Homo sapiens: one gene and its partner. The protein of the gene in region 2 interacts with the protein of the main gene of each other region in a pairwise test. Each region holds a gene or a part of one and is shown on either strand. Other genes may lie near its edges.

Region 1 (5,462 bases), on a different chromosome or scaffold from region 2:
CTTCAGGTTCTGTGATTTTCATGCAAATTACATAACCCCATTAAGTCCCCTTCCCCAACCTGTGCCGCCCACTTCACAGAACGTTGGGGGCTCTAATGGACCCGTCCTCATCATGGACGCGTTTTGTAAACTGTTAGGGGCTGTGCGGTCACAAGGCTTCGCTAGGCCATCGTCATCAATTTAAGGATCTCCACAGTGTGGTCTTTACAACCTCCCTGGGATAAGGGATCACGTGCATTCTAGAAAGACAAACTCAAGCCCAAAAAGGTCATTTCTACCCAAAGATCACATGGTGGCCCCATTCCTGGTGCTGGTACTGCTGTTACAGTCCAGCCTGGCCAGAACCTTGGAGTGGGCCTTCGTGCTACAAGGCCATGTATGTACCCCAGTGCTCCCAAGGCTATGCCCGCCAGCGCCTTAGCAAGTCAGGGCCCACGGGGGCCACAGATGGTAGGATGGGGGGGTGCCAACAGGAACGGAGGGACGTGGTGGGCGGGTGACTTCTCACTGCTTCCCGCTTATGTAAGAATCAAACTCTCAAGCTGTCACTCTCAGCATCTCCGGGGACAGCCACGAGGCTGGTAACGGGGGAAAGTCAGAGCCCCGTGGGCACCCAGGCGACAGGGAGGCCTTGGGACATTTCCGGCCGCAGCCCCCAGGTACTTCCTGCTTTCCTGAGCCTGTTCTGGGTGTCATGGGGTGTGCAAAGACAGCTCTGGTCCCAGTCGAGCGGCCCCATCCTTGCTGGATGCACGAGGCATTCCCAGGGTAACACGCATGGACACTCACGGTGGTTTCTGCTAAGTGCCAGGTGGCAACATGGTCGCTGAGGGCATTGGAAGGAATCAGGGAATGGGAAGGGCCAGCTGGTCCCAAAAGATCCCTCAGGGGTACAGGGACAGGCTTGGGGAGCACTAGGGGCCTGGCAGAGGCCAGCCTTTAGGGGAAGGAAGTTGGTTTCGGAGGCAAAGAAATTCATTCTACTCAGCCTGAAGCAGCGATACTTCCTCCCCAACCCTCCCTCCCTCCTCCACCTTCTAGCTCTTCATTCTGTTGTCTTGCTCTGGCGGGCGTCACCTTCTCTGGTGACCGGGTCCCCAGCATAGGCCAGAGTGAGTCTGAAGCACAAGTGCAAATTCTGCCTTTTCCCAGTCTGCCCGCCCTGCCAGCCCCGGGGTGGGCCATCTGCACGGCAGTCCACGGGGCCTGCCGACCTCCGCAGTCTCCTTTCAGCCTTTCATCACAGCCAGGCCCTGCTGCCTGCCTCTCCTCTCTCCTGCCGGTTCTAACCGTTGGCTGCCAGGCTTGGCCTCGGCTCCATGGGGCTGTGACCCTGAGGGCCCAGTCCCCCAGTCCTGCTCTAGGCTCCTTGGCCAGAAGCCGTGATCCTTCCTTCCCTAATCCTCTCTCCTCTCTTGGTCTCTTGCTCCCCTGACTTCCTTGTCTTCCTCAAGTACCCCAAAAGCACTTGGGAACACTGTTGTGATGCCCAGGGCCGAACTGCGGGGAGGGGGATGGGGGGAGGGGGATGGGGACAGGGGTCCTCTCCCTGCCACAGGGCATCTGATTATCAAAACGGCCAGGAGCAGGTCTTGATTTGCAAGGCCAGCACTGGCCTAACCACCATCCACTAGCAGAGGCTGGAGGAGCCATCAGGGAGGAGGGCAGAGTGGGCGGCCGCTTTACGAAAGTGTCATTTTAGGACACAGCGAGGAAGGCCCGGGCGCAACGTGTGCAGTCAGCTCCAAACTGAGCTTCCGAGAAACACTATTTCTAAAGACACAGAAAGTTCCCAGAATCCCTGTTCCAACTACAACAGGGCCTTTTTTTTTTTGAGATGGGGTCTCACTCTATCACCCAGGATGGAGTACAGTGGCGCAATCTCAGCTTACTGCAACCTCTACCTCCTGGATTCAAGCGATCCTCCCGCCTCTGCCTCCCGAGTAGCTGGGATTACAGGCGCCTGCCACCACGCTTGGCTAAGTTTTGTATTTTTAGTAGAGATGGGGTTTCACCATGTTGGTCAAGCTGGTCTCGAACTCCTGACGTCAGGTGATCTGCCCGCCTCAGCCTCCCAACGTGCTGGGATTACAGGCATGAGCCACCGCGCCCAGCCTACAACGGGGGTTACTTCTGAGAAGCGGCAGTGGGACCGCAGGTGGGAGAGAATTTGGTTTACACTATATACCCTTTTGTACTGCTTACATTGTTTTGACTACGTGTGAATATTACCTTTTCCATAAAAATAAGAAAAACCAGTTTAAATTGCTTTAAAGGCCATGCCCAGGTTGACCCCTTCCTACTGAGATGTTGGTCACCCAGGAAGCCTGTCCCTTGCTACTGCAGGTAAAGAGCCATGTCCCCTCCTGACCAGTGGGCCACACGAGGTCTTCAAGGGTCCCCCGAGGCTCCCACGCCCAGGCCACCCACCTTCAGGAAGTCCTCGAAGGTGATCCCCTCGTACACCTGATCAGGCTCCTGGGGACGGAAGCACAGGGTGGACAGTGAGTGGCGCAGGTCCCCACACAGCTTCCGCAGGGGGACGGTCCACTGGCCTCCCCTCCCCACCAATACCCAAATGTAAGTTGTTGAGGCTGTTTGGGAGGAATCACAAGAAGAGGAGAACGTTCTGGATCGTCTGCCTCCAGCATGGAGCCGGTCACCCTGAACCTCCAATATCCTCATTCATGGGCTTGAGGGTGGGATGGGAGCCGAGCGTCGCTCACCAGGGCCCTGGCAACGTGTGGCTCAGAGCAGCCTCCCTCCCCTCCCCCAGCCCCCCAGGGAGAATCCGAGGTGTGGGTGACATGAGGGCATGGGGCTCTCCTTCCCCACTCAGCCCACCTCACCACCAGCCCCCCAGCAGCTGGACCACCAAGATGCCTCCTGTACCCGCCTAGGTCTGGCCTCCTCATGCCTGCGCTGTGCTGATAAGAAGATTCCAGGCTAATCTAAGCTCACAGACCTCAGGGGAGAGGTCAGGGAAACACAGGGCCAGCCTGTGAGGCCCACGCCTCATGCCTCGTGAGTCACCGTGATAACTCAGGGCCACTGGGGAGGGCAGGGCCAGAGGGTGGCCACAAGGAGCCTCTCCCTGCTGAGTGGGTTTGGCGATGCCAGTCTCCATCGCCTCTGCGTCCTCCCTGCTCTGGGGATGACACCAGGTGCTCCTGCCCCTTTCACCGATACTCCAGGATCCCACCGACAAGCCTCCAAAAACCTCACCCTGCAGCTCGCTTTGTGACAGCGAAAACCCGCTGACATCCCAGGTGCCCGTCAATAGAAGGCGAGGGACATAAATCTCGGTCATCCACGCTATTGATTCCCACGCAACCATTAACCATTTATGCCTAGTGTTCCATTACTGGAACGCTAAGCTGTGGGAGTTACTTATATCCTACTGGTCAAGGTCATCGCCAAGGTCTGATTGCAAAAATTGAAAAAGCTGCAACCTCAGGCAAAAATGGGTTAAGAAGGGGTTGATCTGTATGTCTCACTCTGGAAAAGGCTCTGAGATGTGTACCCAGCAGATAAAGAACAAAAAACAAAACCCAACAAGCAGAAAGATGTCTGCAGGTCTGTGCACGCAAACCTTTCCTCAGACTGATAACCAGACCCCCACCATCTGCCCTGTGGGTGTGTGGGGTCATACGGAGAAAATGGGAAGCCACATCGGTTCGATTATGTTTTGCATACATCAAAAATAAAAGACATGCATGTATACATTGGTATATGTAGGAAAAAAACCACCGAGAGGGAGTCCCTTTAGGGAAGAGGACCTGGGCTGGTGGGGGAGCAGGAGAGGCTCAAAGCTCTCTCTGTGACTGTCTGAAATTCTGTACAACGTGTGTTTAAGAACACAGGAGGCACACTCTAAGCATGTTATGCACCAGGCATGTATGTCCCAAGTGCCTTCCAAGTGGTATTGTTTTGTTTTCATTTGTTTTGTTTTGTTTTTGAGACAGAGTCTCGCTCTGTTGCCCAGGCTGGAGGAGTGCAGTGGCGCGATCTTGGCTCACTGTGACCTCTGCCTCCCAGGTTCAAGTGATTCTCTTGCCTCAGACTCCCAAGTAGCTGGGATTATTACAGGCATGTACCACCATGCGTGGCTAATTTTTTAAATTTTTTAGCAGAGACAGGGGTTTCACCATGTTAGCCAGGCTGGTCTCGAACTCCTGACCTCAAGCAATCCAACCGCCTGGGGCTCCCAAAGTGCTGGGATTACAGGTGTGACCAAATGCTATTGTTAGCATTTAATGATAGATGCCAATCTCACAACCGGCCCTGAGTTGGGTTCTAGTCTCTCTCCTGTATTACAGATGAGGGACACAGAGGGAGCTGCCTGTCCAGCTGGGAGCATCTAGCTGCCTCCAAGTCCTTGAGGGCTGTTTCTACTGGCAGGACTTTGCAGGCTCTTTAGTTTCCTCTTTATACTTAAAAAAATTTTGGCCAGGCACAGTGGTTCACATCTGTCATCCCAGCACTTTGGGAGGCCAAGGCAGGAGGACTGTTGGAGGCCAGGAGTTCGAGACCAGACTGGTCAACATAATGACATCTCTTTTTAGCAAAACATCTCTTTTTTAAAAAACTTTTAAAAATTAGCTGGGTGTGGTGGTGTACACCTGTAGTCCCAGCTGCTCCAGAGGCTGAGGTAGGAGGATGGCTTGAGCGCAGGAGATGGAAGCCGTAGTGAGCTATGATCACACCACTGTACCACTGCACTCCAGTTGGGGCGACAGAACGAGACCCTGTCTCTTAAAAAATAAATAATAAATTAAAAAAAAAATGAAACCCAGCAGTTCTCGGCTAGCCTGGGCCAGCCCTGTCCCTAATGGCTCCTTCCTCCCTGTCTTCCCACTCACGGGCACAGTGGCTGCCCTCCCTGCCGGGCCTCCCTAGGTTCCCAGGCTGGCCAAGGGGAGCTAATTATAGAAAAGGCCCCCATGGCCAGAGTCTGGGGCTGGAAAGGGGGTGATCGGTGCAAGGAAGGAGGGCGGGGAGTTGGGGGAAGCAGCCCCGGCTGAATGCCCAGTGAAGCAGTCCCCCCATCAAGCATCCATGGGTGTGACCTCCTGAGAAAGCACTCTCAAAAGATCCACAGGCCGGCGCGACGGCTCATGCCTGGAATCCCAGCACTTTGGGAGACCAAGGTGGGTGGATCACTTGAGGTCAGGAGTTCGAGACCAGCTGGCCAGCATGGTGAAACCCCGTCTCTGCTAAAAATACAAAAATTAGCCGGGCGTAGTGGCACACGCCTGTAATTCCAGCTACTCGGGAGGCTGAGGCAGGAGAATCACTTGAACTCAGGAGGTGGAGGTTGCAGTGAGCCGAGATGGTGCTACTGCACTCCAGCCTGGGCGGCAGAGTAAGACTTGGTCTCGGGAAAAAAAGAAAAAAAAGAGAGAGAGACAGATCCGCCTCAGTCAATAACTGCCTTTGGAAGTCCATTAAAGTGGGGACCA
Region 2 (4,529 bases):
CTGAATAGGGAAGGAGTTGGATGGTTCCTGGAAATGGACATAAAATACCCTGAGTGGATCTGAAAGAGCAAGTGGGTCATGCTTTGAGCAGTAATGATGCACCAGAGAGCACCTAACCAGCAGCCCTATAACATGGGCTCCAGGCTACTCACATATCTAACTATTCCTCAAGTGGGAGAGCTGCTGAATTAAGACTGGCATTTGCTCTTAAAAGTTTCTATTGCTAATGTTTAGGAATAATGTAGAAAATTCTCAAAAATGCTTTGGTTTGCTTTGTGCAGGAAACTAAGCATTAGCAATCTTCCCCGGACACATGGAGCTGTGACCACGGAAAAGAGGCATGGACCTGGTGGTCGCTGCTGCTGCTGCTGCTGCTGCTGCCTAATGTGTCTCATTGCTATAGAAATGGAGTCAGCTGGCCAGGCGCGGAAGCTCACGCCTATAATCCCAGCACTTTGGGAGGCCGAGGTGGGCAGATCACCTGAGGTCAGGAGTTCAACACCGGCCTGGCTAACATGGTGAAACCCTGCCTCTACTAAAAATACAAAAAAAATTTAGCTGGGTGTGGTGGCATGCACCTGTAATCCTAGCTACCCAGGAGGCTGAAGCAGGAGAATCGCTTGAGCCCAGGAGGTGGAGGTTGTAGTGAGCCGAGATCGTGCCACTGCACTCCAGCCGGGGCCACAGAGCCAGACTCCGTTTCAAAAAAAAAGAAAAGAAAAAAGAAATGGAGTCAGCAAAGTCAAGGAGAAATTTTCAAACAGAGGCAAGGCTCTGGGTCATTTTTGTCACCCTGTGATAAAGGACAACATTAATGTTAGTCTCAACACATCTTTTAAAATTTCAGACATCTACTAGTAGGCAATGATCCCTTCTCCTTACAGCCAGAAATAGTCTGAAAGTAATTTATTATGCATTTATATGATACATATATGTGTGTATATAGTTTATAAATCTAAGTTTATAAATATGCTCATATATATAGCCTTATAAAGTTACAGTTTGGATTAGTAAAAATTAGACTGATGAAATGCAATTATCTGATAGAAAAGAGGAAATTAGCTGATTTGAGATTTGAGAATGTAAAAATGAGTGTAAGGACTTGAATCACAATCAAGAGAAACAGTGGGGAGAGGGACAAGAGGAAGACATGCCTGGAGCCTCATCTCTGCTAATTCCCCTTCCTGTTCTCTGCTCCATTTTCTACAGTAATGTCAGATGGGGAAACACACTCTGAAGAAAAGCCAGGCAGAGCAGGACAGAGCGCGAGGAGACGAGGGCTCTGGGAAGGTGTCATTGCAGTGGTGGCGTCTGGGCAAAGGCCAGCTCCTGATGGCACGTGGAGGGTGGGAGGCTCCCCTCCCATGGAGGAGCTTCGACTGTAAACAATAAAGATGACATCACCTGCCATAGCTTTTAATTGCGTTTATATTCAACCCTAAGATCAATAAATGTGGGGTACTTCACGTGAACTGTCTGAATTTGAAGATGGAACATAGAAAAAGAAAATTAGCTTGGGAGATTTTGCCACTGACATTTCTCAAAGAGGTTCATGGCGGAAGCACTTTTAAAAAATATATGAGAAACTCAGCATGACTAGAACAAGCTGAGTCTTATTCAGACTCTGACATATTGTCTCAAATACTAATATCTACTAGCGTCTAGGATTTTGACAGAATTACTAATAGGGTGAGACTAGAAAATACGTCAGAGTACAAAGTTACAAATGACATATTCCTAGATAATATATTCTTACATGTAATTAGTGTGTGAGTACATACACATGCTAATTATGTTTGCGTATCATTGATAAAATGACGGACTGCAAACACACATCAGGGGCTTCTGAACAAAGCCTACAGAACCTTGGAGATGCTTTCAGCAAGGCAGCTTGGTGGGTTTGACTTTCACTCTCTTTACAGTGCAAAGTGTTCAAGATTAAGTGATTTATTTGTTTGCTTTTCTCTCGGTCTAACATCTCACACTGTCAGACACACAGATAAATATAACACTTGTTCCTCCATTTTTCAAGTGATAAGCAGTGTGCCGAGGCCACAGGTGCTCCAATGGTTCTGGTGAGGTGGTTTCAAGATGTCACTTGGAATCTCCTCTTGAAAGTCAAAGTTGTCCTCTGAAAAGATTTAGGCACATATTGTGAACCTGGAAACACCAAGCAAAAGGTAATTCTCATTAAAATGTTACAAAGGCACCCACTCAGAACGATTGTTTTGTACACTCCATGCAAATACTTTAAAATATATATTTTATTTTAATACACTTTTGTATAAATTAGGAAATAGTCATATGCAAAAACTGCCTATTAGGGTCCTAAGGAAAAGGAAGTGTGCTCCCCCAAAATCAAGCGGAGGTGCAGGCCACGCGTCCTCCCGAGCTGGTGGATTCACGAGAAGCTTCCATGCAGAGGCGGGTCCTGGCCCAGGAGGCTGAGGGAGCACTACTTCCTGGCAGCTCTCCTGCTTCCCAGGGGCAGGTGCAATGCCAGGTACTTTAAGGGATCCTTCCCACTACCTGGAATACCCCTTTGGCTCCTTTTTTTTTCTATCACAGAAATAATAAAAGTTGATAAGTTAGTAGTTCCCAGTGCTTTTTGACCTGGACGCAAAGGTAGCAAGGAGGTCATGTGCCTGCTTGTCAGAGAAAAAGAAAACAAACCCTCAGAAAGACAGGAAGATCCCTCTTATGGACCCTCGATCACTTCTGCAGATATAGAAAAGACCTCTGACCATCAATAGTAGCTGTCTCAGAGTTCCTGATAAGAGCTCATCCTCTGAAGCGGTGCGTCTGGGCCTGACCCTGGGAGCCGGGCCGTGTTGGATGCCATCATGAAGGCGGATGCGGGGTTACATGGGGAAGGGCATCAGGAAGGCTGGGAGGAAGGCAGGAGCGTGGGCGTCACTGAAGGAAGGCAGCACCGCAGGGTGCACGGAGCCAACATCCGGCCTGAGATCAGGTGCTATCAAGGCTTTGCTTTTGCATGGGGATGTCTCTTGCACAGCTGGGCCACTCAGAAGGACCGCAGAAAGATGTGGTTCTTAGAATCACTGATTGGAATGATTCAGAAATTCCTTTATGAGGATCCTGCTTATGATGAGCTCCATGAAGACTTAGAGGAAAATTGAAAGAGTTTTGTTCATGACTCAAGGTTCAGCCTGACTTCGAAATTAGTGCAGAAGCTTCTGGACTTTGGTTTGGAGGACGACCGATGGATGAACAAAGATGAAACATCAAGGAACACAGGTCCCTCTGTCCCTCTGTTCAGTGTTTAAAATGTGACTGAAGGTCAGACAGTGCTGGGAGATCCGGTGTTCAGTGGGGAAGGTTCCACTTTGGCGGGTGAAAGGGCCTCCTTCTCCTGAGGTTTCCTGTCCCTTGGTGCCCCAGGGACCCCTGCACACCACCTGCCTGTCGGGGGCCCTGCCTGCTCTGCGGGCTTAGAGCTCACCAGGCTGCTCAGTGCTGGTCCCGAGTGCCTTGGCTTGGCCATTCCTCTCCAGCAGCACAAGCCTGGCTGGTTCTAGGCGGGGGTTGGCCCCGGACAGGGCCACCCCTACCTGAACTTGAAGGCACAGTCTTGTTTTGTTTTTTAAATGAGGCAGGGTTGACCTTAAGTAGGCTCATGGGTGATCAGGATGAGTCCTTGGATATGTTGAGGCTTGTTATGCACCAGGCACTGCGTTATCTGCTCCGTGTTTTATTTCAGGAGTCCTTAAGTGAGGTGTTATTCCCATTTTACAGGTATGGAAGCTGAGACCCACAGGGAATGCCTGGTGTCACAGCACCCAGCAGCAGAGCTAGGACTTCCGTGCCAAGGCCCGTGTCTCTCACGACCACCAGGCATGGCCTCCTCCGGATTGCACAGGCCGGCACCTACAGCCCTGGGCATCTCTGCCCTCCCTTCCGGACTGCACAGGCCCTGCCGAGCTGCATGGAGCTCCAGGGAGTCCCCTGTGGCCAGTTTTGCCTGTGCACCTGGTGGAAAGGAAGAAAAGCCAGCCTGATCCTGAGGGGGCCTGGACATACCCTTCCCACTCCCCAAATGGGGATGAACTTTGAAGCATTAAAAAAATGGTTAAGGAGGGGAAATATTTTGAACCAAAGAACTAAATGTTAGCTTGTTGTTACAGATGCAAAACCTCTTGGAGCTGTGCATTTGGTTGGCTGCATTCTCTCTTCTAATAGCTCTTTTGTCTTGGGTCAGTAGTTAAGAGGCAGTGAGGCGCAGATGACTGGCATGGACCGTTCCCTGGGTCCTACATGAGTTAAGTGGCCATATGTGATTGCACGTGTTAATGTAACTCCTCTGGACGCCCCCAGTGGGGGTCACTGCAGTCCCCCGATACCAGCTCTACCCCCACCTCCTCTTCCAGAAAGCAGTGAGTGATATGCCGAAGGTGTCACCATGAATCCACTCTGGTTTTTAATTCATTCCTGAATGTCCTATTAGATCGTGGTGTGCTGCCTGAGCTGGTGGCCAGAGAGGCGACTCCCTGTGTGAGCAGCGTGGTGGG

The links.
Region 1: the proteins of FAM149A (region 2) and TESC interact in a two-hybrid assay, tested with the Homo sapiens proteins (one large-scale study listed by IntAct).

The regions. Positions count from the first base shown.
Region 1 is NC_000012.12:117,039,517-117,044,978, forward strand, and holds part of TESC (calcineurin B homologous protein 3), read right to left. Parts: intron 2,479-5,462; coding exon 2,431-2,478; intron 1-2,430. UniProt on the Homo sapiens protein: Functions as an integral cofactor in cell pH regulation by controlling plasma membrane-type Na(+)/H(+) exchange activity. Promotes the maturation, transport, cell surface stability and exchange activity of SLC9A1/NHE1 at the plasma membrane.
Region 2 is NC_000004.12:186,169,545-186,174,073, reverse strand, and holds part of FAM149A (protein FAM149A), read right to left. Parts: intron 2,161-4,529; coding exon 2,087-2,160; 3' UTR 1-2,086.